4 linked regions of the Homo sapiens genome follow. The protein of the gene in region 2 interacts with the protein of the main gene of each other region in a pairwise test. Each region holds a gene or a part of one and is shown on either strand. Other genes may lie near its edges. The genes, in order: AGPAT4, LEUTX, STATH and ENTPD3.

Evidence for each region.
Region 1: the proteins of LEUTX (region 2) and AGPAT4 interact in binary tests that used the Homo sapiens proteins (3 or more experiments, as listed by UniProt).
Region 3: the proteins of LEUTX (region 2) and STATH interact in binary tests that used the Homo sapiens proteins (3 or more experiments, as listed by UniProt).
Region 4: the proteins of LEUTX (region 2) and ENTPD3 interact in binary tests that used the Homo sapiens proteins (3 or more experiments, as listed by UniProt).

What each region holds. Positions count from the first base shown.
Region 1 is NC_000006.12:161,138,057-161,145,080, forward strand, and holds part of AGPAT4 (1-acyl-sn-glycerol-3-phosphate acyltransferase delta), read right to left. Parts: exon of another isoform or gene 3,022-7,024; intron 2,411-3,021; exon of another isoform or gene 1,565-2,410; coding exon 1,366-1,564; intron 1-1,365. UniProt on the Homo sapiens protein: Converts 1-acyl-sn-glycerol-3-phosphate (lysophosphatidic acid or LPA) into 1,2-diacyl-sn-glycerol-3-phosphate (phosphatidic acid or PA) by incorporating an acyl moiety at the sn-2 position of the glycerol backbone.
Region 2 is NC_000019.10:39,774,341-39,781,857, reverse strand, and holds the start of LEUTX (paired-like homeodomain transcription factor LEUTX), read right to left. Parts: upstream 3,005-7,517; 5' UTR 2,938-3,004; coding exon 2,931-2,937; intron 1-2,930.
Region 3 is NC_000004.12:69,991,299-69,998,976, forward strand, and holds the start of STATH (statherin isoform a precursor), read left to right. Parts: upstream 1-4,667; 5' UTR 4,668-4,727; intron 4,728-7,124; 5' UTR 7,125-7,139; coding exon 7,140-7,190; intron 7,191-7,678. UniProt on the Homo sapiens protein: Salivary protein that stabilizes saliva supersaturated with calcium salts by inhibiting the precipitation of calcium phosphate salts. It also modulates hydroxyapatite crystal formation on the tooth surface.
Region 4 is NC_000003.12:40,390,161-40,397,184, reverse strand, and holds part of ENTPD3 (ectonucleoside triphosphate diphosphohydrolase 3), read right to left. Parts: intron 6,235-7,024; exon of another isoform or gene 5,163-6,234; coding exon 5,035-5,162; exon of another isoform or gene 4,616-5,034; intron 1-4,615. UniProt on the Homo sapiens protein: Has a threefold preference for the hydrolysis of ATP over ADP.

The sequences.
Region 1 (7,024 bases), on a different chromosome or scaffold from region 2:
GAAGCAGAAGGGTTGAGCTTGCCCCCGCCCTACCAGGGGCCCTGGCACCTGCAGCTGCCCCGGACCCTTGGCCAGCCTCAGCATGGCGGGGCATGGGGGTGCCCCTGGACCTGCCTTAAGGAGATGAGGTGCTTTCTTCTCCAACCTCTTATTTTTTTCCCTTACACGGTGTGGGTGTTGTTTTAATATTTTAATTTTTAACACTAAAATACATCTTAATCTTTCAAAAGACTGTATAGTAGGGTCTATTTGAGGAACAGGAGCCAGCTTGTCTACTGCACCCATATGCTGCAGCATTGGTTGGCTCAGTCAGAATGAATGAGCTAGGTTTATGTGCTGTGACCTGTTTTGGTGGTTATGATTCATTAGGTGAAAAGGCGAGCTGAAGAAACTCCACTGATACGGGTTTATAGATGCACATATGCTTGAGACTGGAACCACCACGTGCATCAAATTGTCATTAACGATTATCTGGGAAGTGGGCTCAATGGGAATGGTCTCCTGACACACTTTCCATTTTCTGCGCTTGTCTATTGCTTGGGCCTTTTATAGTGAGCATACTGCATCTTTGTGTTTGACAGAAAATAACTGAGTCCTGTCCATTTGGAAGAAGCACGTGATCTCTGTGTGCTTGGACAATGTGCCGTCTCTCCCGGGCTCTCCAAAGCCTCAGAGGACGCCAGGCTTGGGGAGACAGGGCCTTTCACAGGGAAACCCCAAAGTCTTCCTTGGCTCCAGGAAGCACGGACCTGCTGTTCACAGGGCAGGAAGCAGGCACGACAGGCTGCCCCGCCAGAGGCAAGGAGCAGGGTGCACAGGGGCTTGCCACCAAGAAGCAGCAGTAGCCCGAGAATACCGGTCACCTGGAGCCAGCGCAGACCCATGAAAAGCTCTGTCGCCGAGTGTCTCCACTCAGTGTCATCCACCTGCAGCAAAGGAGAAGCCACAGGCGCCCCCAGAGGAAGGCAGGGAGCTGCCCATCCGTCCCCGCCAGGCTCCAGCACAGGGCTTTCTTCAGAAGCAGGAAATGATGCCAATGAGCAGAGCTGTCTGCGGAGGACAGGGAGGGAGCACTCCCAGCTGTCGGGGAGTGAAGTGGCAGCTGCATCACCACCCAACAGGGAACGTGTGGAATCCAGCCCCAGGTGGGAGGCTGGACCGTCCAGGCTGCGGAGGGGGTCCCAGGCCTGGTATTCGAGGGCCTCGCACTCATCCTGAAGTCTAATCTTTCCCTGTGATTGCAAGCTGAGCCTGCTCCTCATCCACGGCACAACTGCCTATACAGATGGCCTTCGTCCCAGCCCTGATGCCACCTCTCCCAGGGTGGTGCTGTCAGCACCCACCAGCCCCTTGCCCTCCACTCACCCACAAAGAAGACGAGGATGAAGCTGGCCAGCGTCAGGGAAGACCCGCTCCTGATCATGCTGACCAGGAACTGGAAGAAAGGGTAGAGCACCAGCGAGGCCCAAAACAGCCAGTTCACGAGGGTCCAGGGCCGCCGGGGGGGCACCATGGGCGTCTCTGGGAAGGTGCCCGTCCTGTAGTACTCCTCCTGAAAGGCATCCTGGGGGACAGGAAAGAGGACCCTCAGACGCCACACGGGGCTCGGTGGCAGGTCCCTCCCGAGGCCCTGCTTCCAAGGGAATCGCAGAGATACACAGGTGCCACCGGGGCTCGGCAGAACTGGGGTCTGCAGCTCCTTCCAGAAAGCACTTTGTAGGCAGCTGCTGTCTTCTCAAAGCTGCATCTGGCCGCCCCTCCCACAGGGACACTGGGAGTGGTGGGGCCGCTGCAGCTGTCACTGAGTGCAGGGCGTGGAGCATGAACCCTGGCGCCAGGCCAGCCTGGGCTAGGATCCACCCTCTGTGGGCAGGCACCTGCATCCCTGAGCCCAGGCCCCAGTCTGTCTAATGGGGCAGCAGTGCCTTCCACGATAGGTCGGCGGGAGAATGGAGTGGATGCTGCGCCGAAGCTGCCCGCAGGGGACACTCGGTGGAGACCTGGCCCGCAGTCAGGAGGAGCTCGCCCAGCCCGGCCCGGCACATGCCCCGCCTTCCCGGCCTCCACAGCCAGTTCACCTCGGGCAGCCCACCCGCACCTACCACCCTGTTTGCCACTGGAGGGCTCTGAGGGCCGTGATTCAAGGCATCATGAATGACAAAGGGCTGGAGGGCTGCTGGGTGTGGCTCTCAGAGGTGACAGCACACTCAGGACTGGGTGTCCAGGGTGACTCTTCTAAGTGATTGTTAGACCGTGTGAAAGGTAAACAAACAGGCTCATGTCCTTCCACTAAGCAGATCCTTAGTGGGAACCATGTACTCATCCACATCCACCCACAGGGTGTGTGTGTCACCGAGCAGCTTGCAGGGCAGTTACTCCAGAGCCTCATGGCGCTCCTTGCAGTCCCTGGGTGAGAACAGGGGACTCACGGCCCCACATAAATGCACTGCGAAAGAACGCGGTGGCTCTTCCCTGGGTGTCTCATGTCACGGAGCTCCCGCTCAGGGACTGGGGCTCAGCCGCAAGGAGCTGCTGAACACAAGGGAGGGACCCAGGAACCCAGGTCAGCAGGCGTGCTCAAGCGGCTGGGAGCTGAGCTGAGCCAGGACCTGGGGGGAACAAGGAGCTGTGGCACCAGGATGCCCGCTGGCCCGTCTAAGGGCAGGTCCTGGCCGTGAGGAGGGGCCAGGGCAGAAGCTGCCTGCAGGGAGCAGAGCTGAACCAGGCAGCCACAGGGAATTGCCCAGGTTGTATGGTGGGCAGCTGCCTCAGCTATTGTAAAAGCTGCACGTGGCCGATAGCATGCACGCCACACAAAAATGGGTGTGGGTCACAGTGAGGCCCAGTTTGTGTCCCATGAACTAGCCTAGTAATGTCCCAGTTCTCTAAGGAGTCGAGTTTTCTGGAAAATGAGCTTCCTTATAATTGAAACTTATACTACTTAAATGCTGAATATTTTCCTTTAACAACTTGAGATAGAAAAGTCTAAAGTATCTCATACTTTTCTTCTTTTTCATTCAGGGTGTACTGAATCATAGGCTTTCTTGGCCTCTCAGAGGCACTTTTAATAATAGTCCACACACTAGGCCATTTTGGAAGGAGAACCCCCAACCCCTTCCCTGGGCAGTTCAGGTGCCTCTGCTCTGTCCTCGGCCCCCTGCAGCCCATTAACAAGCCTGGTCCGAAGCGTCACTTGTCGCGTGACTCTGCTGTTGGACATCAGCCAAGAGAAGCCATGGGGGCTCTCAGGGGAAGTCACATCATCAAGCAACTGAAGAACAATCAACGTGTGTGCCAAGCACTCCTACCCTCAAGCAGTGAGAGCGATCAGATGGTGGAGGAGACAAGGAGGTGAGCACCATGACGGTCAGCAGCACAGGCAATGCCCAGAGAGGTGGCACCCAACTCTGCCAGGGAAGCAGCGGCATTCGCCTGCCCACCAGAACGGGGTGATTTTCTTATCCCAGGTTGGGGCCACAGGGCACCTGATAACTAGACAAGGGGGGTGATATTTTTGTGCCTTGTTTTTTTTTAAAAAAAAAACAGCTTTCTTAAGATGTCACTTACATGCCATAGAACTCACCCATTTTAAAAAATGGGCAAATGTGGCTTTTGAATTTATTTTCCTTAACAGTCTTTATAGTGCTTTTTTACAGTAATATCACAAAGGGGAACTCACCATGGTGCCTTTTCTGTCTTGTTTCCAGAAAGACATTTGCTAGGCCAAGATTGTTTTATTTGCACCTCTAGCAAGAAGAAAAAAGCACTCCCTTTTCTAGGAGCTTCCCAACTCAGAACTTCCCATTCACTTTATTTTATTTTTTGAGACAGAGTCTCACTCTGTCGCACAGGCTGGAGTGCAATGGCACGATCTCCTCTCACTGCAACCTCCGCCTCCCGGGTTCAAGCAATTTTCCCACCTCAGCCTCCTGAGTACCTGGGATTACAGGCACCTGCCATCATGCCCAGCTAATTTTTGTAGAGATAGGGTTTTACCATGTTGGCCAGGCTGGTATTGAACTCCTGACCTCAGGTGATCCTCCTGCCTCAGCCTCCCAAAGTGTTGGGATTACAGGCGTGAGCCATTGCGCCCAGCCCCATTCACTTTAAAGTTTTCTTTGTCTGTGGTTTAAAACACTAAATCTCATCCCCTCCCCTCACTTATGGCCCATGACATTGCCACAGGACCTCCCACTGACTATCGGGGAGAGAACAGCACCGCCAGCTCTGGCCAGACTCCAGGCTCTGGCAGCAGAATGTCCGTGGCCCATCTTGGTTGTGGACCCGTTTTGTAATAAAATTTGCCCCGCAGGGAAAGGACTCGTGTTTTTTGTTTTTGTGTGTTACCGTGTGGCATAGTATAAAGTTGGAACTGGGAAATGTAGTTATTGAATGAAGGAGAGTTGGTTTGTTTCCAGAAAGAAGCATCAACCTACAAGCCAAGAGGAGAACGAGATCCTATTGAGAGGCGGCAGATCCCCGGACGAACGCCCCCTGCAGCCCGCAACAAAGGCACTAGGGAGGAAGCGTGCGAAGGAGACGTCCACACAGCACGTCCGCTCAGCTTTCCCAGGGCCCAGGAGAAGAAAGAAGGGAGAAAAGAACGGGAGGAAGAACAGGAAAGAACGAAGAATAGAAGAGAAAGTTGAGGAACAGAGAGGAAGAAGCGGCTCCTCTTAGTCAGCAAGTCTGGGCGGGGAGAGGCTCTGTGAGAAGCGCTCGCAAGCCTTGGTCTCAGCCCGCAGACACCACCCGAGTGCACGGCCAGGACTTGCAAAGGACTTACCATGGGAGCCAAGCCTTGAGGCTCCCTGCTGCCCTTCTAAGGAGCAATGCCCTTATGGTTTAAGTGAAAAAACAATTGCCAGTCCCCAAAATGGTTCTTGTCCTTGAAGGCCAGAGCAGGAGAGCACAGTGTTTCCCACGGGCCACCATGCCTGCACCCTGAACTCTGCACCCCACCCAGAGCTGCTCCCGACCTTGGCCTCCACAGGACGGCTCTGAATGTAGCTGTCCTTCACTTATTTCTCTTTAGAGACAGGGTCTTGCTCTGCTGCCCAGGCTGGAGTGCAGTGGTGCAATCATAGCTCACAGTAACCTTCAACTTCTAGGCTCAAGCAATCCTCCCACTTCAGCTTCCCCAGTAGCTGGGACTACAGGTGTGTACCGCTAGGTGCAGCTAGTTTGTAAAATTTTTTTGTAGAGACGGGTTCCCATTATGTTGCCCAGACTGGTCTCAAACCCCTGGCCTCAAGTGATCCTCCAGCCTCAGCCTCCCAAAGTGCTTACTCCCAAAGGGATTACTGGCATGAGCCACTGTGCCCAGCCTCACCTATTTCTTAATTTGCACTATTAATGGCCAAGTTATAGTCCCTTCTGCAAATGTCAAATTACAACCTGAAGAAGTACTTTAAGTTAGAAATGAAAAGTTAGAATCTGTTCACCCCATACAATTAAGAAACCGTGATGGCTATCGTGACCTCCCTGGAAAAAAGGGGGTTCTGAGGTTGTAGGTTCAGCCTCAGAGCGAGTTTACCTGGGAACTGCTTTTGTCCACAGAAGATCACACAAGGGCATGAATGGTTTCTCAAAGCCTTCCAACAACACGAGTCCCAAATGCTGACGAGCAAGAAATACTGTGCATTTTTCATAAAGCTAAACTAGGTCCACTCAAAGGATGGCCCTGTTTTCAGAGATGGTGCCTTTCCCATATTAAAGAGTATAACTGTGTCAGTGGTAGATGGCGAGTTTCTCTTTATTTATGTCCATGCTTGGAAAGACCAGAATGTTGGCACACCTCTGTTGGCTGCCTGCCATTCCCCTCCCATTTTGCAGAAACTTTACTTGTCCATGAAATTGAAAAGTCAGAGAACTACTGCCCTAAAATCCCAAGGTCAAAATCAACAGAACTGTCTTTTGACATACACCACACTTCTGACTGCAAGGTTGATCATTAAAATGAAATCCCACTTTGACAAACTGGGTCGGGCACCCAGATTTGGGGCACGTAAAGCTTTAGATCTAGGCTCCTAGCAAAATAGGCTGATACAGAAAGGAATTGTCCCTTGATGTCTATTCACCACTCTGCTTGGAGAAACCATGCACCACTTCCACTTGCTGCTCAGCGATCTTCTCGGAAGGGCAAAGGGCCAGCCTCCCAGGCCTGCTCACAGACACATACTGCTTAGAGAACTCGGTGTCGCCCCAGCCCTGCACGGAGAGAGAAAGGGCCTGGACTCCAGCACCTGGCTTTGATCAGTGAGCTGGAAAACTGGGTAAATCACTTCATCTTTCGGACCTGAATTTCCTCATCAGTAGTGTAAGAGCTTTGGAGTAGATGATCACTTTGAGAACCCTACCAAGTTGAACACTATCATTTAAATGTGAACATAGTTTAGAGGAAAACACCCTAAGAGACTTTTAACAAGAAGGAGATGTGCCTCTCAGCTTGGTTTACACGATGACCACACTCTGCCTGAATACAGGGGAGGAAGGGCCCGTTGAGAAAAATCTCCTTTGCCTTGATGGGCTTGAGGGCCCACGTTTATTGTAGATTTGTTTGTGTGGCTCTTTACAAAAGAGGCTCATTTTCTAAACCTTTTCTTAGCATACTCTGCTTTCGGCTAAAAGTAACATTTTCGGCTGGGCACGGTGGCTCACGCCTGTAATCCCAGCACTTTGGGAGGCCGAGGAGGGCAGATCACAAGACCTTGTGAGATCGAGACCATCCTGGCAAACACGGTGAAACCCCGTCTCTACTAAACATACAAAAAAATTAGCCGGGCATGGTGGCGGGTGCCTGTAGTCCCAGATATTTGGGAGGCTGAGGCAGGAGAATGGCGTGAACCCAGGAGGCAGAGCTTGCAGTGAGCCGAGATCGCGCCACTGCACTCCAGCCTGGGAGACAGAGTGAAACTCAGTCTCAAAAAAAAAAAATAAAAAAAGTAACATTTTATATGCTGCCTCAATGCTTAGACCAGAAAACAGAGCAAGAAAAATACTGCCTCATGCATGAAAACAGAAG
Region 2 (7,517 bases):
GTTAATTACAGGCTTGGTGCATGTGTTAGTCCATTTTGCATTTATAAAGAATTACCTAAAACTGGGTAAATTAGAAAAGAGGAATTAATTGGTTCACAGCTCTGCAGGCTATACACAAAGCATAGTGCTGGCATCTGCTTCTGGTGAGGGCCTTAGGAAGCTTCCACTCATGACAGAAGGCGAAGGGGAGCCAAGGTGTTACATGGTGAGAGTGGGAGCAAGAGACAGCAGGGGAAGGTCCCAGACTCTTTTAAACAACCAGATCTCAGGTGAACTTAGAGATAGAGAACCCACTCATTACCATGAGGATGGCACTAAGCCATTCAGAGGGATCTGCTCTCATGATCCAAACCCCTTCCACCAGGCCCACCTCCAACACTGGGGATCACATTTCAACATGAGATTTGGAGGGGACAAATATGCAAACTGTATTAGTGCATAATGGGAGTTTTTACTATGGTTTAGAATATAAATAAGACCTCATCATCTAGTAAAACCTGATTCTCATGGTCATCTATTTTATAGGAAAGTTTCTATTTTCAGGATGCTCTTATTCCTCATGCAAATACATGGAAAAACAGAAGCCAACATGCTGCCCAATTATCGCACAGTGAAGACAAGTGATCGGGCACATGGGTTTCTCTTAGTGTCTCAGCATTTGTTTAGACACAAAGGGAGAACAAAAATTTACAGGACATTGAAGAAAAATTCTCAAACAGGAAGGGGACAGCAAGAAAGGGAGAGAGGGAGAGACAGAGAGAAAGAGAGAAAAAAGAAAGGGAAAGTGGAAGAGAAAAAGAAAGAAGAGGAGGAAAGCAGCAAATAACCACATTTTTTCTTAAGAAAAGAAATAAGGCTGGGCACGGTGGCTCATGCCTGTAATACTAGCACTTTGGGAGGCCAGGGAGGGTGAATCACTTGAGATCAGGAGTTCAAAACCAGCCTGGCCAACATGGTGAAACCCCATCTCTACTAAAAATATAAAACAATTAGAAAAAAATTACAAAAAAAAAGAAAATCTATAAATGTTAAAATTAATATGCTCGGATAAAAGATATTGCACTCATACATCAAGAAAGTCTTGAAAAGAAAGGAAAATCTGATAAGACAAATGTTCTTTGAAATCAGTAGCTAAAAAGAAACCCTTAGGCAATAATAGAAGAGTTGGAAGACAAAGCTATTCCAGGAAGTAGAAAAAGTATACAAAAGTGGACAAAAAGAGTGAAAAGGTCGGAAAAAAATAAGATCTCTGCTCAGGGATGTCCAGCACTAGCAATATTTATGTGACTAAAAATATCTCTGACTAAAAAATGTTTCAGAGAGTATCATGAAAGTATTTATTAAAAAAAATTCAAGATTTGAGAGATGAGGCACAGGGGTTTCCAGAATGAAGACATTCCACGATGAGCACAATAAATGAACAAAAGGATCGTTGTTGCAAAAATATCAGAATACCAGGAATATATAGAAATTTCCAGAAGCTTCTAAAGGGAAGTAGAATTTCCATCAAAGGAATGGTAATTAGAATTCTACTGGTCTTTAGAAAAGCAACACTGCACATTGATAAGTTATAGGAGGTAAAATCGAGGAAGGATGTGGCTTTGAGTTTAAAATCATCTACCAAGCTGAGAGGTCAATATGTAAAATCGACTAATTAGTATTTTTGTAAGTTTAGTATTAAACAATAGGAAAATGTATTAGAAGAGCCAGGTACAAGTTTTGATAAGTGAGCTTGTTGATGCATAATTTTTCTATTAGAATCAAATCATTTTAAGAAGTTAAAATAAAATGTAACTAAAATTACATTTATGTCCCCAGCCAAGAAATACACTTTTTTTGTTTTTGAGACAGAGTCTTGCTCTGTTGCCCAAGCTGGAGTACAGCGGTGCAATCTCAGATTGCTGCAACCTCTGCCTCCCAGGTTCAAGCAATTCTTGTGTCTCAGCCTCCCAAGTAGCTGGAACCACAGGCACATGCCACCATGCCTGGCTAATTTTTGTATTTTTAGTAGTGACAGGGTTTTGCCATGTTGTCCAGGCTGGTCTTGAACTCCTGGCCTCAAGAGATCCGCCTGCCTTGGCATCTGAAAGTGTTGGAATTACAGGTGTGAGCCACCATGCCCAGCCAGTAATATACTTCTAAACTACGTTTTACAAGTACAATTATAAAAGGAAAATGTTGATAAATATCACAATGACAACTTTTAGAATATTTGTACAACGGTACTCATAAGTAAATTGAAAAACACAAGCCAGGCTGGGAGAATATATTTGCAACACATATAAGAGATAAATTATTAGTGTCTAGAAGACAACAAAAATATTCTACTAAGCCTCAAGAAAAAAAACATACTAAAAACTGGGAAATGATATAAATATAAAAATTAGCATAGGGGAAAAACAGAATGGCCTTTAAAATAGAGTGAACAGATTCAATCACACGGGTTAGTAAAGAAATGGGAATTAAAGATCACATACTATTTTATACCCATCAATGGACTGACATTTAAAAAGTATGAAAGTTACCAGGCATTAAAAAGGATGTGAGTTCAAGACGACCTTAGGCAACAGAGTGAGATCCTGTCTCTACAAAAAATTTAAAAATTAGCGGGACATGGTGGCACACACTTATAAGTCCCAGCTACTCCTGAGGGTGAGGTGGGAGGATCACTAGGGCCTAGGAGCTCGAGGCCAGCCTGGGCAACATACCAAGACCCCATCTCTTTAAAAAAGAGATGTGGAGAAACAAATTCCTAAGTTACTAGAATCCCTTGCAAAGTGTTTTTCAAACAATCCTTGTTGGTATAACCCAGTGGTTTCTAAATTTACCCAGTGGTTTCTAAGAAGCCACCACAAGGTCCCACACCTCTCACTTGATTTGTCTGCAACCCAATCACTGAAACCCCAGCCTCTTGCCTTCGCCCAACTTACCAAACATGGTGTCCTCTAGAAATGAGTGGGTTCGATCAGCTGTGTGCTGCAGAGCTCCTGAGCTGAGTCTATGTGACTGCTGGGCTAAAAGACCCGCTTATTTAAGCAGAATTTTAATGTAATCATGTCCCCACCCTGTCCTACCCTAATACCACGCCCTCCAATAATCCATTCAATATCTGTTTATTTAGAACCTATTATATGCCTGATGCTGTGTAGGGCACTGGGAATAAAACTATGTTTAAAAAAAAAAAAAAAAAAAAAGACTGATCCTTGACTCCAGAGAGTGGAAGAAAACAAAAGAAAGTGGAGCGAACTGAAAATGGATAAAATGTTCAAAAATGTCACTTGGGATCAATGAGTAAATAAACAAGGCGCTGAGAGAAAAATAAGTTGGTAAGATGATTCAAACTGGAAGGTGAAGGAGGTGCCCTGTGCGTGGACGGCTTCCAGTGAGACCCGGAGTGCAGCAGGAGGCATCCTGCTAGGAGTTTGGGATGATGGGAGTTAAGCCCTTCACCCGCCCATCTCGGTTCAACCTCTTCCAGTTGAGACAGCAATGGATGACAGTGAAGAACTTGGCAGAGCCTAAACCATAGGGGATCTTGTATCTTCTCTTGAGTATGGATTTGGGGGCAGCTGGGGAGCCCATAACGAGTTTTCAGCAAGGAAACTTAAAATATAAATTGCATTAAAAGAATCATGCTTCTTTCTTTCCTCTGAGCATCCCTCTCTCTGTCCCTCTGTTACTCATTTACTCCACCTTTCAGGCACCTTATTAACTCATTTATTTATTCCTCCCCCTAACGTTCTTCTCCATGATGGGTCTTATTTGTGGGGTGAGTGTAATTCACTAGACAGATCTAGTCTCTATCCATGAGATATGGCCTCCCCACACTCAATGTGGACCCAAGCTTTCTGAAGCAGAGATGGGACTCTGGTCTTGGCCCATCTTATACTACCCCTCAACTCTGTCCTCTCCCGCAACCTCCACACCCCCACCAGGTTGGTTTGGAAAAGTCTTGGACTAGCGAAAGAACTCTGTCTCTGGGAACATTGCAGGTAGCCTGAAGGCCAAATGATTGAAGGACCCATCTGTATCTTTTTACGTTTTGTTTTAGGGTCTCACTCTGTTGCCCAGACTAGAGTGCAGTGGTGCCATCATAGCTCACTGCAGCCTTCAACTCCTGGGCTCAAGAGATCGTCCAGCCTTGGCCTGCCAAAGTGCTAGTGAGCCATTGCACCTGGCCCCATCTATGTCTTTTACAGGAATAAAATTCAGGAACACTTCTAACACAGTCAAGGGTAGAAACTCCCAAATCCTATCGGAAAGGATAAAGTGGGCCTCAAATTTTCCGTTTAAATGTTAGAATCAGTCCCTGGAGTTGCCCTATGACACTAATGAGGATGGAAAGAGAGTGATATATTCAAAGGGTATGACCTCCCCAATAGCAGGGAATTTTGCAGAACTTAACGTTAAAACACCCCTGACACTTCTTCATTTGTTTGCTTAATTATTTGAATGCCTGCTCTGCTAAGATTTGTTCCAGTGACTAGGAAATTGGGATTTACAAAAATAGAACTCACTGCCGCCTTCCCAAGTGCTGGCATTCTAGGGAGGGAAGCAGGAAATAAAAAAGGAAACAAGACAATACGCAGTTCTGATTATGATACTACTGGTGTTATGAATGCCACCAACAGCACTGATTCAGAGGATGTGCAGTAGTTTTAAGGTAAGGTAAGATGTCTCTGAGGAAGTATCATTTTCACTGAAGGAGAGGGAAGAGTGTTCTAAGCAAAGGGAACATCAAGTGCAAAGGCCCAGAGACATGAAAAACCTTTTCATGTCTGAGGTGCAGATAAGAGGCCACTGTAGTTGAGGTGTGTTGTGGGAGAGGAATATCGGGAAAAGCTCAAACTGGAAAGGCCAACCAAGGTCGGGGCAAGGTGAAGAAGTTTGAATTTTATTCCAAGTGAAGGACAAAGCCATTCAAGGGGCCTTGGGAGACACAGAACACTCAGTTCACTTTCTTTCCCTTTTTTCTTTCTTTTTTTGAGATGGGGTCTCGCTCTATCACCCAGGCAGTGGTGTGATCTCGGCTCAGTGCAACCTCCGCCTCCCAGGCTCAAGGGATCCTCCCGCCTCAGCCTCCCAAGCAGCTGGGACTACAGGAATGAGCAACTGCACCCAGTCTCAGCTCACTTTTCTTACCACAAGCTACTTGAGAAATGAAAGAAAAAAATCGCCTCACCTTGAGAAAGTTGCTTGAGATTCCAGGTGCCCGCCTGACAGGCAGGTTCCACGGAGGCATGAGGCTGAAAACCGTGTGCAGTTACAGTTTCTCTTTTTGTTGCATTTGTTTGGAGCACACCCTCCCCTTACTTTCAGAGGCCTCATTCCCTACTTTCTCATCAAAGGCTTCTCTCATACGCCCCAGGCCAGGTCAGAACTTCTGTGTGGTGCGGCAGCACTCCCGGAGCTTCACCATACCTCGCTATGTTTATTTGCGTGGGTTTTCTGGGAATGTTGGTCTCCATGAGGGAGGTTGTGGGTCTTTCCCTGTGATCCTCAGAGCCCTGCACAGGACCTGGCCCATGGTAGTTGCTCATTATAAGAGTTTAGGAGACATGAATAAAATATTGGACTCTCCCTGGGGGAAAGTGGCTGTAGTTGACCTTGCTACTGTGAGATTTCAAATGTAAATAAAATATTTGCCTATTTTGGCATGCACTGAAGTATTAGGAACATGTTTCTACAGCACTTAGGATGGGACACGGTGGTACAGGATGCTGTCCACTAGCCTGATCCAGGCATGCCTAGCATGTGAACCGTAATTCCATTTTCTTATTCTAAGTTGCACATACATGCAGAAAAGTTCATGAGTGATTAGTGTAACACCAGCGATTTTAAGCCCCCATGTAGCCAGCACCCAGATCCAGAAACAGAATATTTCCAGCATCCCACAAGCTTCTTTCCATCTCTGCCTATGCAATGGTACCAACTTGCCTGACTATGTCATCGCAGATCAGTAATGCCAGCTTTTGAACTTCATATACATGGATTATAAAGACTTTTTTCTCTTTTATTTTTAATTGACATGGAATAATTGTACATATTATATTTATAGAATACAGAGGTTTTTTTTTTTTTTTTTGAGACAGGGTCTCACTCTGTCACCCATGCTGGAGTGCAGTGGCACCATCTCAGCTCACTGCAGCTTTGACCTCCTGGGCTCAAGCAAGCCTCCCGCCTCAGCCCCTGAGTCTATAGGCATGGTGACAAAGGAGACTAAAGAAGCATAACAATGAAAGGCATGAAATCTGATTGGATGATGGATTTTAAAACAGCTATAAAGGACATGCTTTTGGACAACTGGGGAAATTTAAATAGTACTGTGAATTAGATGCTAACTTTTAAGAGATGGCAGAGTAGAACCTAACAGTCTTGTGGAGCTGAATGTACAAAAATGGTAGGTTGGTGCCTGCCAAGTGCGAGAGGGAATATTAGGCTTTTATTTATTATTATTACTTTGAATTTTTGTTTTAAAACAATTCTTCATCTTTTCTGTTGTATTCTTCTCAGACTGCTTTCAGGAGCTACCAGAAAATAACACGCAAAGTTTGAGACTCTGGAAGATTTTGCTTTAACTAAGTCACACTGATGTATTAAATTTATCATTTTAGCATTCCCTGTAGATCTTGTCATTCCTTACAAATGACACCCTTTGTCCTGGAGAAGAATACTAAGTTAGAGCTGGTGGGTTTCTAGTTTAGGAGAGTAGCTCGAAAATATAATCTTTAACAAGTTGAAAAATAAAATATGAAATAAGAGGGTGCTTTCTCTTTTTGTGCTCACCTGTATTAAGCAATTTCCTTTCACAGATAGCTCCCTCAAAGGGAAATCCTTTTAATTTAATTTTCTTTTTGGATGATGATTATTCAAAGTCTATGTATTTATTTATTCAATTAATTAAATTTGTTTTTTTGAGGTGGAGTTTCACCCTTTCACCCAGGCTGGAGTGCAGTGGCGTGATCTTGGCTCACTGCAACCTCCACCTCCTGGGTTCAAGAGATTTTCCTGCCTTAGCCCCCCAGGTAGCTGGGACTACAGGTGTCTGCCAAGACGCCCAGCTAGTTTTTTGTGTTTTTAGTAGAGACTGGGTTTCGCCATGTTGGCCAGGCTGGTAGCAAACTCCTGACCTCAGGTGATCCACCCACCTCAGCCTCCCAAAGTGCTGTGATTACAGGTGTGAGCCACTGTGCCCGGCCTATTTATTTATGTTTAAATATTTGTTTCAATAGGTTTTTGGGGAGCAGGTGGTTTTTCGTTACAAGAATACATTCTTTGGTGGTGATTTCTGAGATTTTGGTGCACCCATCACTGCAGCAGTGTCCACTGTACCCAATGTGTGGTCTTTTATCCCTCATCCTCCTGCCTTTTCCCCCAATTCCCCAAAGTCCATTGTATCATCCTTATCCTTTTGCATCCTCATAGCTTAGTTCCCGTGTTAAACTTTTAGTGGGAGCGATGAAAGGACTGTGCCCTACACGAACAGGTGTACCAATCAGTACTTAAATCAACCAAAC
Region 3 (7,678 bases), on a different chromosome or scaffold from region 2:
ATTGAGTGACACTCGATGGCCTGACAAGGCCCTCTTTAGATACTGCACATGCAGCAAGGTCTAAGAGAGATGAAAGTTGGCCTTCAGGCAGTTTACACTGTAGTTGGGAGATAGAAACAACAAGTGAAAAAATAATACATAGTATCTCAAGTAATCATAAGTGTGCTAAAGATGAAGAAGGCAGGACTAAGGCAAAGAGGCAATTTAAAATAGGATGGTCAAGAAAAGCTTCTCTGGCACAGTGGCATTTTAGAAAACATATGAAGTGCTTATGTTCATAAGTTAGCATGAAAAAAAAAATCCAGCAGAAGAAATAGCAGGGCTGCATTCTACTGTGGTAGAAATACATTTATTGCGTTTGGGAAAACTCTAATGAAAACAGCATGAATAGAGAAGGAAAGATGTGGATTAAAATAAACTATATTACAGAAAAGAGGTGAGGAGATGATTGAAGCGCCATAGGTCAAAGATAGCCTTTGGATTGAGATAAATGCCATTGGATCAGGCATTGATCTGATTTATATTTTGGAAGGGAGGCAAGGGTTGAAGCATAGATCCCTTACTTTGGCATTACAGAACCCTGCTGGCCCTTAATAGTTTTACATCCTTTTGTTCTACCTGTTCATTCTTTTTTTCCATATTCTCCTAACCTACAACTTAATATTTATGATTTAGTACATACTTTCAATAACTCAAACAACTCCAGTGAAGTCTGAATTTGATTAATTATATTTGCTAAAATCTCAATCCTACTAATTGTTAAATCTTCTTACACTGCATCTCTACCAAGAAAACGCAAATGTACAAAGAAAAGAATTTATTTTATGTTTTATAAATGTGGCATACAATGTTGCTAAGCAAATAATATTCTTGTATTTAGTTTTATAGCTCTCACCCTTTCCCTTCAATAAAATGTCCAAATGTATCATTAAGTTTTCTGAAATATCCAACTCATCTTACCTTGTAGTCAGTTCCAGAAAACAATCTACTCTGAATTAAAAACTGAGCCCATTTGATCTAACCCATTTAAGCTCTCTACTTTCACTTGTTTATAAATTAATCTATACTTGACCAGATTTGTAACTCTCTGCAACATCTTGATCATTGACATGATTCTAATGTTTTTCCAGAGATATATTCCTGTTGTTCCTGGTTTTGTATTTCCTCCTTTATACTTGGAGAATTTTAAAAATTAAGATGTTCTTTTTCATGAAGATTATGATGATGAAAATTATAATAATGATAGAATCTAATATTTGCATTTGAGTCATTTTAATTTACAATGTGATTTTTATATACTCTCCTTTAAGTTTCACGTATTACTGTAACATTTTATAAATAAGAAAATTTTAGTTTAAAGACATAAAGCAAACTAAGCAACCTATAAGGTCACTGCAACATGGTAATTAACATTTCCTTCCTGATGTTTCATCCTCTTGGCTTCCACAACATACAAACAGCCGAGAAATACCTCTTCTGCTATTCTTTTCCATCACAGATTTTTTTCATAGACTTTCTATTTTCTCTTACACATTACATCAGTGCTCAGCAGGATATCTGTCCTCAGCCTATTCTCTTCTGACTCTACACATCTTGATTGTATAAGCTGTAATAATCTCATAGTTTGATTACAATCAATAAGATGATAAGTGCCCAATCTGCAACTCCATTGTTGACCTTCTTCTCCCAATTTTAGACTCATGTTTTCCTGGGTTTCTCTGTCTTAGCCTTTATCCTTGTCTGATTCACAAATTATACTGTAAACTCCTTAAGAACAAGAGTAAAGCTTCTCATGTCATGTCTCCAGAATAAACAACATTCTATCTATCTAGTAGATTATCATATGTTGTTCAGCATTTGTCAATCATATATGTCATTTTAGTAATTCAAACAGGAACATAATATAACATTTTTAGTTAAATAAATAAATATCATGGATATTGGTCATAAATGGTTTCATGTTTCCATCATAAGAGAATTGCAGAATAAGGAGAAGGAGGAGCAGCAACTGGAGCAGCAGGAAGACAAGGAGGATGAAGAGGAAGAGGAGAAGGAGACGGCAGTAAAGAAGATAGAGAAGCAAGATTGAGGAGAGCCCAGCATAAACATCACTACAAATACCCATTCATGGGTTGTATCCTTAAGCAAAAATTGTATTGCCTCACCTGTGATAAAGCAGTAGTTCTTTGTTGATGTTTCCTTTGTAACGAAAGGTCATGACATTTTCAAAGAGAACAGTGTTTGGCATAGAGGATAAGATATCTGTTTTCTTTAATTATAAAATATGAAGTCATGTTCTGGTTCATCAGTCTTCTAAATTGGTCTGCTCTTCCTGGAGGGTGGGACCATAACTAACACGAGAAGGTCACTCCTTTGTTTCTAGTCTGCTATCCTTGTTTGACCTATCATACATAATCCCCACACTTCCTAACTTGGGGAAGCAGAAAATGATGGGTGGACTAATGCCTACATGTTGGTATTCCAACATAACATGTAGATGAGTTAAGTTTAACTGTAATTTTAAAGTGTGTATATTAAGATGTATCAATATTTCTTACCATGTAGTTTGCTGTTTGTTAGTGCCTTTGGGCTATTAGTTTGCTTTATGTTCACTAGAACATGAATACCTTAGATCTACTAGAACAGTACCTAGTATTGTTGGATAAATGAAGTGGTGAAGAAAACCAGAGGTAAGAAAGGAGAAGAGAGGGAGAAGAAAGAAAGAAGAAAAGAAGAAAATCATTTGACTTTCCCCAAGTAATCGAAGCAGTTTATTTTTAAAATCAGATATAGTTCAGTAGTTACTGAACCATGGGCCAGGCACAATGGCTCATGACTGCAATCCCAGCACTACTTGGAGGCTAAGGCAGAAGGATTTTTGTGGTCAAAAGTTCAAGACCAGCATGGGCAACATAGCAAGACCAAGTCTCCACCAAAAACAATTTAAATTAAATTAACCAAGAGTGATAACACATGTCTGTAGTCCCAGCTAAACATGAGGCTGAGGTTGTAGGACCACTTGAGCCCAGGAGTTCCAGGCATCTGTGAACTATGATCTCACCAATGCACTCAAGACTGTGCTATGCAGCAAGACCCCATCTCTGGAAAAATAAAATAGTTACTGAACCCTATGTAACTTTTTTCCACTCAGAATGTAAAGAGATTGTGTTTGTTTTACACATGAGAAGAAACTTTGTATCTATAATGCTTATAAATCTCATGACAAAAGAATAAGAATAATATCTATCTAATTTAATTTGAATTATTTATTTGCCTTAAGAAATGATTTATATTTTCTTGTATATTACCCAGAGAGTAATCATAATTTCCAGTAAGGCTGTTCCAATACAGCATAAAAATTTACCTAATAAATACTTCCTTAAAAAATCTGATACAAAATTAAACCACAAATTATCTTTACTGGTTAAAGCCTAAGGATAACTAATGCATTCAAGAGACAAATATGTGGTTGTTTTTTTTTTTATGTTTTTGTGGAGATACGGGTCTCACTATGTTGCCTAGGCTATTCTTGAACTTCTATGCTCAAGCAATCCTCCTGCCTCGGCCTCCCAAAGTGCTGGGATTACAGACATGAGCCACTGAGACCAGCCTTGTTTCAAACTTCACAGTACCCAAAGAATCACCTGGAGATAATGTTAAAATGCAAACGCCTTAGGACAACCCCAAGATTCTGACTCAGCAAGTTTGCGAAGGTGGACTAAGAATTTACATTTCCACAGGCTCCAGCTGATGCTGTCTGTGATGTTCCCATATGGCACACTCTGAGGAACAATGCACTAGGCTGTATAACTTACCTCAACTTTATATATAAGTTTTTGATATTCGTTTCTTAGTACATTGAGTTATCCAACCAGCAGTGAGTAGGGTAATTTTTACACAAATTTTCCTAGGAATGTAATGAAAACATTTTTTCCTTCACTCTAGTGTAATCATGTCAACACATGGCTGCTATGGAAAAATATGTAGCCTTAAAAACTCCAGGAAATTAAATTGAATTTCCAAATACATATATTCAGTCATATGTGAGATATGTATCAGTGAGCACTTAGAGTCATTTCACCATAAATATAATAATTTTTTATCATATAGTACCCAAAAGATTACTGAATTTGGCAAATGTTTACGTTCACTTTGTAACTTAAAATATTCTAAAGTCAATAGAAGATGGTAAAAGTATGAGATAAATAATGATTTGAAGAAAAACTCTTGAAGTATATGAAGACTGTAATTTTATTATGCCAGTTACCACGAGTTATCAGAGAACATGTAAAATCTTGATAACATGGTAAGTATTATTTGTGTCATAGAGTTGTTCCACCTTGGACACATACTTGTGGAAACATCTTTATCACTGCAATTATTTCTATGCCTGGTTTCCTCCAGCATGCTTTTCTGTCATCTGACTCACTCAGCGCTAGACTAACAGTGGGATTAACATGCAGTGGGTACAGTTGTTTCCTGGTTACTTTGTCTTCACAATCATCTATTGCAAAATCACTTTGTTACGGTTATTTTTATCATTTGTAGAGACAGATTTTGGGCATTACTTTTAGTTTCCATAATGTGATCTCATAATTGCCATTATTTAACAAAAACAAATGGGGGACTTCAGAGTGTTTAAATACATTGGCCCTCTAGGGTAGCACATCATCTCTTGAAGCTTCACTTCAACTTCACTACTTCTGTAGTCTCATCTTGAGTAAAAGGTAATATGTTCATGTATAATCGAATATGTTGTCTTAATCTAGAGTGTTGCTTCCTAAAATCTTTTGAAAACTAATTATAAAAATGTGTATTTATGTAATGATAATTTCTCATAAAGAAACAATTGAGAGAAATGATGACCTTCTTAGGATCTGAAGGTAAGTTGAGAATCTGAATAACTATACATTGAAATCAGCAATCATCATGCAAAGTAAATAATGTGGAATATGGAGACATATTCCAACTTCTCTCCTGATGGAACTTCTGAAAAGCTTTTTATTTCCTTGTCTACGTACTGGCATCTACTCTGCTACTTACTACTTTTACCTTTATTCGAAGTTCATATTTTAAGAAAATAGCATACGTTCTCTTTTTTGCAAATGTATATATTGTTTCACAAGTTTAACTTTTAAAAATTTACTTTTTTCCCATAAGTAAACATTTCTCACTACCTTTTCATTGACCTTTCCATCATTTTAAACAGTTATGTCATTCTGCATAATAAAAAATGTTGTATAACAGTCATGCTTTACTGCCTTACTGTTTTATATTACTTAAGTTGTTTTCATTCAGTTGTGATATGGCAGAAAACAAAGATTTTACTATTTCATATTTTTATTATTTTTCATTGGGGAAATATTTTTTTAAAACCATGACATATATATTTATATATCTATGTCTATATATCCATCTTTCAGTTTATCAAGGTTAGTAAAACAAAACTACTCTTCTATGAGCATTTTTTGATTCCATACTTTCAATAAAATTTACAGGTATAAAATACACTAAAGTTTTTATGCTTTTTGCATCATAAAATGACTGATGGGTAGGTTTATCTATCAGGTGATAGAAAAACCCCAAAGTACATATTATTTTTACACTTACTCTAATACCAGAAATTTCCTTTTTTTTTTTTTTTTTTTTTTAATTTGAGACAGAGTTTCGCTCTTGTTGCCCAGGCTGGAGTGCAATGGTGCAATCTCGGCTCACCGCAACCTCCACCTCCCGGGCTCAAGTGATTCTCCTGCCTCAGCTTCCTAAGTAGCTGGGATTATAGGCACTCACCACCATGCCCAGCTAAATTTTTATTATTATTATTTTTAGTAGAGACGGGGTTTCTCCATGTTGGTCAGGCTGGTCTTGAACTCCTGACCACAGGTGATCTGCCCACCTTGGCCTTCCAAAGTGCTGTGATTACAGGCATGAGCCACCACACCCGGCCAGAAATTTCAGTTTGAATAACTGAGGCAAATCAGTGAATAAGTAACAAAGCAAATGCCATAAATCATGAGTTCTGCTTTATGTTTTGGAGATTTGGGGTTATTAATAACAGTAATTTTTTTTATAATTAGGTAAAAAATATTCTTGTAATGTTTTATCACAAGTTATTGGTAAAAGAGATTAAAATAATGAAGACCATTACCTTTATATGAATTACTCTATAGTTTTCAATAAACAGGTAAAAATGTCATTTATTTGTAACTCTTGTGGCAATTATGTGTTTCACTGAAAATGTCTTTATTTAGATGTTTATAATTTACAAATAAATAATCTAACGTTTTTTGTTTAATAACAAAGGAACTGGGTTAACTGGCTTATACTGTTTATGATAACATATCACAGTCCCAGATAAGGTTAATTTTGTTGAATGAGATTATTTAAAATATTAAGTCATCTTCACCAATTCAACTTCTCAGAGGAGGTACGAATATTTTCTCTGTGACTTCTTATCAGTTTGATTGTTCTCTACCCAGTATCATTAATGTTCTAATCTGAAGGTGACCCCATTTTTGCAACTCTCAAGACAGAAATCTGGCTCATTTTCAGTAACATTATAAAGCGATTGCCCATTGCTGGTCATTCTAACATCCAAACATCTCTTTACACTGTACCTTAAATATCATCCCTAATGTCATTATTTAAGGCGCCCCATAATATCCAGTTCTATCTTCCCTACATTTTGAACTGTTCCAGTTTTATCTTCTGATAAACTGCTCCAGTTTTATCTTCCCTACATTTTGAACTGTTTGCACTTTCAATATGGTATCCTCCCTCTTTTTCATTTTCTTGCAGTCACCCAACACCTCTTTACTCATCCTGCATAATCCAACTCAAGCTTTACTTTCTTCTTTACCTTCATACCCCTATTCTCTTGGTCTGTGTAAGGTGTTGATTTGTGTGTTACTCTAATGCCTTAGCATTTCCATATCAATACACTCACTTTTACTTATCAGTGTCTCCAACAAGTCTCCAAGTTTCATGATGTCAGGCAATGGGTTTTAATTGTCTTTCTATCTGGAGTGTGTCTCCCAGTGCTTTGGAGCGTAGTATAATCAATAAACTTTTGATGGGCGAATGCAAGAAAAAATGTGATACTGAATTTCCACATATGTTTTCAGAGAACCCAGCCAACTATGAAGTTCCTTGTCTTTGCCTTCATCTTGGCTCTCATGGTTTCCATGATTGTAAGTATATCAGGACATTTGAAGAATATGTTCTCAGTACCTATCCCAAGAGTCTCTCTATTCCTTGTGTTCTGGCATATATTGGTGTTTACTTGAATACAGCTTTATATGTTTAAATGTTTCCATATGAACTTTTTTTTGTACTAACCTACATAAGCTATATAAGGATTTAGAATAAATAGTCATTATTCATCTACAGACACTAAAGTATATTTAGCTTAGTGTGAAATAAAAGAAAGTTTTACTGAACTTCTTAAATATGTGGAACTGAGAGCTTCTAAAAGTATCTTTAAACATGTAATGCTCTAGACAATCTGAAGTTAGAAATCTCAGGAATGAACTAGGTGCACTTGAGTGGAATTCAAGTATTAGAAGATGTCAAAGTAGAAATTTTCAAGTCATTCCTTGCAAAAACTAACTTAAAATTAGTATACAATTATTTAGCACACACTTTCTAAAATAAAGCTGCTTATTTTTAACTATAAAAC
Region 4 (7,024 bases), on a different chromosome or scaffold from region 2:
GCTGGAGGAGAGGACCCATTTGCATAAGGAGACCGAGGCTTTCTGAAAAAAAAAAAAAAAAAAAAGAAACTAATTATCCAACTCTTACTCTCCAAGAAGTAGACCAGGGTGGGCTACAAGGCACCAGAAATCCAGGCTGATGAGCAAGGCTCAATGAGGGTTAAAAGGGAATGATTTCAACACAGACTGGGCCAGTGGTTTTGCTTTGGAGAGTAATGGCTGAGCATGGGAGTGTAGACTAAAATGGCTTATGATCTTGGACCCAGTATGGGGAACTAATGTGGGCTGAGCAGGTCACAGTGGAAAAGCCCATCCTTAAAACCTTTAGACTGTGCAGAACCCATCTTCAACAGTGACATCACATGGCTGCAAGAGGCAGTACAATAGTATTGATCATTGGACTGAGAAGCTCTAAAGTTCTTGGATGGTTATGATTAGGGGTAGGGAGGGTGAAGCCTCAAGAGGAAGGTATTGGACTTCATGATGATAAAGCGGGGGACTGGGGGCCGAGTGAAAATTACAAGTGATGGCATCATGTTTACTCTTCAAGCTTGTGGAGCAAGTCAGACCAGTAACACAAGAGACTCAGACATTTTCGCCCCTTGACTGCATTTTAATAGTTCTGACCATAACCTCACATAAACCAGGGTTAGGCAAGCCAAGGTTAGATTTAATAGCCAGATACGACCTTGCATGAGAGTCCTCTGTAACATTTCAGAGCCCTCCAGACAGGCTGTTGTAGAGCTGGCCCTTTAGAACCAACTGTCAGCTGCACACGAAAGCAAAACAGGGCTCATGGTATAAAAAAATAAACATAACAAATAATTTAAAATCCCTCATATTTGCTCAACTTCATCACCTGCAATCCTCTTCAAAACAAAAAAAGAGAGATCTCTCCATATCCTGAGAAAAACTGCATGTGGAACACTCTCTTCCAAAGCTGTCATTCCGTTTCTGGTTCAACTGGCCCAGAACATCTGTCTTTTCTCACATTTAATCCACCCAATTAAGCAGAATGGACCTTCCGAGCTCATCTTCCTGTGTTTTACAATTTCCTGTCCCTTGCAATGGTGGCTAGGGTCTGTTACCAAGATTCAGAAGAGATTTAAAATCCCCTCTTTGAACTGCCTGCTGATTGGTGGAGGGTGTGTCTCCTGGTTCCTCCAAACCCTTGTTTAAGGCCACTGTTGTCTGTTCTCTTTTCTTTCCTTTACACCAGTTCTGCTATTTTCAATCTGTGTAACTATGGGAAGCTATTTGCCCTTTCTTTTCCTGTTTTCTCATCTGCAATACAGGGATAATAACAATATTATTTACATGGAGTAGTCACTGACAATTCTCTGCCCACATCCCCTCAGGCCTTACTACTGTGATGTAGAACTATCCATCTTCCACCTGCCTGAAGGCTTAACTAGTGGCCCGAGTCTACCTGATCACAAAATATGCCAGAAGGACTAGAGAGTTAACATCCAGGGAGCAGCCTCTCAGCTAATGACTGATGGAAGCTGGTGAATAAATATGCCCTTGACTGGGATATCTGGGAGGCACATGCCTGTATGCCCCTTGATATGGGACAACTTTGAGTTCTCTGTACCAGCTCACAGGGTCTCAAGCAGGACTGAGTCCCAGTTGCCCACAGTGCCGACCTGCTGCATAGCAGGCCCTCTCTTGGCTGCCTGACCCATCTCAGTTCCCTAGTCCCTCACCAGTGTTTCCTGGGATCATCCCCAGATGATCTACTTGCACGTATGTCTTTGACTTGGAGAGCCCAACCTAAGACAGTAGCATTCAACATGTGTGGTTTTCTCCTTCAACAGTGCCCTCTAGACTGCCCAGGGATCTATTTTTATCTACTCATTTTACTAGTCTTCCATCTGATTCCTCCATGTCTCTCCATTTTGAACAGAGGACTTGCCTGTTACTGTCCAGAACAAGTAGAAGCCATCAGCTGGCAACTGCCTTAACCAGCCCATTTCTAACATTTGTAGGATTAGAGACAAAATTTTATGAATAGAGGCTTCTGCCCTGTCCCTTTCCCAAACCTGTTCTCACAGAATAAAGAGCCCATGCACCTGTGTGTGGACAGTTCAGACCACACAGCTATGCTCTGTTTACACTCCCTGTAAGCAGCTGCCTCTTGGCCACCCCTCAGACCATTGGTGATGTCCACCTTCTGGAGGTCCACGAAGACCCTAGATTCTGAAGTCTTGGGCACCACAGTGTGTTCTAGAAGGGGAAACATGGGCTCTGGGTAAACACATTCGTTTGGGTCATAGAGAGAGATAAGCCTGAAGTGCAACTAGAGCTGGTCCTTCTGAAATGTGGGGCCCAGGGCAGGCAGCCCAGCTATCAGGGTCTAAGGGTGGTACTAGGCTTAACTCCTCTCCTTCAATTCAACAAACCTTCCCACATCTGCATGCATCCTCCCTACCTTTCCATCCTGTGCAAAGCAGGAAGTGTTCTCTTATCTGAGGCCAATCCCTTCCCTCCATTTGGGATCTCCATTCAGAACTCAGGGTCAGGGAGAAGTGGGAGGCAGTGAAGAGAGCCCTGGCCTTGGGAACAGAAGGGACCAGGTTTCAGTTCTGGACCTGTCATTCACTGACCAAACCTGTATTTTCTCACTTTCAAAATGGCAGTCATGGTGCTCGCTTTGTCCACCTTCTATGGTTGGCATAAGAACTAAGTGATGTAATGAGGGAAAAGCGCTGACTTAACTGAATAGCACTATACAAAGTGTAAAGAGATATTACTCTTAGTTGCGGCTGGGCACGGTGGCTCATGCTTATAATCCCACCACTCTGGGAGGCTGAGGTGGGTGGATCACCTGAGGTCAGGAGTTCAAGACTAGCCTGGTCAACACGGTGAAACCCTATCTGTACTAAAAATACAGCAAGAAAAAATTAGCTGGGCATGGTGGTGGGCACCTGTGATCCTAGCTACTTGGGAGGCTGAGGCAGTAGAATCACTTGAACTGTGGAGGCAGAGGTTGGGGCGAGCCAAGATCATGCCACTGCATTCCAGCCTAGGTGACGGAGCACGACTCCGTCTCACAAAATAATAACAATAAAATAAAAAATAAAAAATATATTACTCTTAGTTGCAGTTCCTTTTTTTTTTTTTTTTTTTTTTTTTTGAGACAGAGTCTCGCTCTGTTGCCCAGGCTGGAATGCAGTTGGCACTATCTCAGCTCACTGCAACCTCCACCTCCCGGGTTCACGCCATTCTCCTGCCTCAGCCTCCTGAGTAGCTAGCTGGGACTACAGGCGCCCACCACCACGCCCAGCTAATTTTTTGTATTTTTAGTAGAGATGGGGTTTCACCACGTTAGCCAGGACGGTCTCAATCTCCTGACCTCGTGATCCGCCCGCCTCGGCCTCCCAAAGTCCCAATTTTATATACAGTAGTTTGTAGAAGGCAGTGCCTGGAGCTTGGGAAAACACCTTCTTTTAGGCCTCAGCTAATATCTTTGGACAACTGGGTAATTTGCTTTCTTCTCATTATTGGGTGATTGCATAAGGTTTTTTTTTAATTTTTAATTCACATTATTCATGAGGGCTGAGATTCTTAAATAAAATATCCTATCAAGGAACCAAATGCTATTATATTATCTAATGGAGATTTTACTCTAATCTTTTAGAAAAGCTGCCTTAGAATGTTAGCTCAAACCCATCCTTAGAGTCCAAAACAATATTAGTTTCTTTTCTTTTAAAAATGTCTATGTATTTCAAATATTACCTTTGAATAGTCACTAACAGCAGGAAGATATGGAAAAGACTTGTGAGGTCAAGTGTAAATGTTAAATGAGATTCAAAGAACATGGCTGAATTACCTGGTCCCTATGGCACAGCTAAGAAGGGTTTGTACATTCTTAATGAGTCAAAAAACAAAGAAGAGTTATAAAACAGAGACTATAAATGGACCTCAAAGCCTAAAATATATACTATTTGACCCTTTATGAGAAATGTTTGCTGACCCCTACCCAAAATGATTGAAGGACTCATCAACTTGCTTCATCTTTCCCTTGTCAGCCTCTCATGGAATCACCTCCTGTCTCCAAGGGCACCCTCAGAGCCAAGCCTGGGGATATATTATGATTCTGAGCCTAAAGATCATTTGGGGATGGACTTGTTGAGAACTAAGAGGGGCCTCTGGGACTAAGCACAAGGTCCTGAGTAATTTTTTTTTTTTTTTTGCCGGGGGGGTGTTGTTGAGGGAAGTGTTGGAAGGAACACAGCACATGTTCTAGACTCAAGAGTAGCAGCACAAATAGAGCTCAAGGAGACCTTCTCAAGTTCTTGATTTTTTGTTCACTCAGCCTAGGCTAGAAGAGGTGCCTGGGTCTCCTGGTCTTGACTTCTTTTTTCCTTTTTTTGGAAAAATTTCTTTTTGGTAGAGATGGAGTCTCTCTATATTGCCCAGGTTGGTCTTGAACTCCTGGGCTCAAGCAATCCTTCTTCCTCGGCCTCTCGAAGTGCTGGAATTACAGACATGAGCCACTGTGCTCAGCCTCGGTCTTTACTCATTATCAGGGTTGTGTGGTTGGGAGAACAGATAAACTGGTCAAAATGGAAAGTGCACTAACCGGTAAATTTTTTTTTTTTTTTTTTGATAGAGATGGGTTTCACCATGTTGCCCAAGCTAGTCTCGAACTCGTGGACTCAAGCAATCCACCTGCCTCAGCCTCCCAAAGTGCCTTACAGGCGTGAGCCACCGCACCTGGCTGAACTGGTAAATCTTTGATAGCTATCTGCAACTCTTGGTTACAAATTTTAGCTTTGAAGTCAGAAGTCAAAGCAAGACTACACAGTCCTTGGAGAAGGTGTCAGTCACTACCCTCAATTTGTAGCCTCAAATATCACAAACCCAGCATGTCCAGACCTTCTCCCTTGCGTCTTACACTAACTTCTCCTGGCTTCAGCCAGAGATGGGGGGAAAGGATTTTCTGCTCTTCTAACTCATGGTTTTGGAATAATTGATTTCTTCCCCTTTATGCTCATTTCTTCCCTTTGTTGCCAGTCCCTTCACACTTACCTTCAGTCCTGGAGGGAGGACCTCTTGCTTGTGGATCTGGATGACAGTGATACTCACAAGTACCACAATACTCACAAGCAAGACCACCAAGGCAATGATGGTTGGAGTTCGGTAGAGGGCCTTGAGGCCTAAAATGAGAAGACCCAGAAGACACTTGAGGGGGAGGTAAAAACCAGGCACTGGTATTCTTTGTAGAATTGATGGACTGGCCCCATAATCAGGTGCATAAACCACCTTCTCTGGTGTTAGCGAGACCCACACTTCTAAGATGGAGTAGCAAATAAGCTCCCCTTCTCCCCAGTTTTGGGGAAGCACAAACAATACCTATTTGCCCTTCCTCACAAATTGTGTACTAAAACAGTGTTGCAGGGAGGGTATGCATGGTCTAGTTTTCTGATATTTTGGTTATCCCTGAGATGAATTACAATAACATTTGTTTTACTTTTTTCTTTTTCTTTTCTTTTTTTTTTTTTTTGAGATGGAGTCTCACTCTATCGCCCAGGTTAGAGTGCTGTGCCGTGATCTTGGCTCACTGCAGCTTCCAACTCCCAGGTTCAAGCGATTCTTCTGCCTCTGCCTCCTGAATAGCTGAGATTACAGGTGCCTGCTACCACGGCAGCCAATTTTTGTATTTTTAATAGAGACAGGGTTTCACCATGTTGGCCAGGCTGGTCTCGAACTCCTGGGCTCAAGTGATCTGCCTGTCTCGGTCTCCCAAAGTGCTGGGATTACAGGTGTGAGCCACCACGCCCAGCTAACATTAGTTTTAATGGAGATTCAAAAAATCTATTTTTAAAAAATTAAACCAGGTGATAGAATATTTCACTTAAAAATAATCTCATAGAATATTTCATTTAAAAATAATCTCAGTTAAAGAAAAAGAAATTAGGCTGGGCAGATGGCTGACCCCTGTAATCCCAGCACTTTGGGAGGCCGAAGTGGGTGGATCACTTGAGGTCAGGAGTTCAAGACCAGCCTGGCCAATATGGTGAAACCATGTCTCTACCAAGAAATACAAAAATTAGCCAGGTGTGATCATATGCGCCTGTAGTCCCAGCTACTCGGGAGACTGAGGTGGGAGAATTGCTTGAAGCCAGGAGGTGGAGGTTGCAATGAGTTGAGATCAAACTACTACACACCAGCCTGGGTGACAGAATAAGACCTTGTCTCAATAAAATAAAATAAAAATAAAAAAATTAGTACTATACTATACTGAAATGATTTCATTTATTTGAAGTTCAAAAGTAGGAAGGTAACAGGAATCAGAATAGTGATTGCCAGGGGGCAGAAGTTGGGGCAGGGATTCACTGAGAAGGAATATGTGGGCACTTTCTTGGGGTAATGGCAATGCGCTATACAGAGTGTGGAGTATATGGATGTGTGCATTTGTCAAAACTCATCAAACCTTTCAAAGTCCTTTGGAGAAAACTTGAAAATGAAAGCAAATCAGTGTCTTAGGTATAATTTCCTTTTAAAAAAACATTATAAACTTATAAATTGCCCTTACTATTCTAAAAACATACTTTTAGAAGGCAAGAACACCCAACTTAGGGGCACGACTTAAGATCTATCCATTTCACTGAATAGAAGTTATACCTAATTTTTTAAAAAGATAAAAAGACATTCAATGAAAATACTGACTAAATAATAATCTTGGGCTGGGTATAGTGGCTTATGCCTGTAATCCCAGCTTTGGGAGGCTGAGATGGGAAGATGCTTGAGGCCAGGCGTTAGATGCCAGCCTGAGCCACATAGTGAGACCCCGTCTCTACAAAAAATGAAAAAAATCAACTGTACATGTGGTGCACACCTGTAGCCCAAGCTACTCAGGAGGTTGAAGTTGGAGGATCCTTTGATCCCAGGAGCTCAAGGCTGCAGTGAGCTGTGCCGCTATACTCCAGCCTGGTGACAGAGTGAGACCTTGTCTCTAAAAAAATAATAATAATAGTCTTGGTAAAACTATTGGGACATCAACATAAATGACAACCAA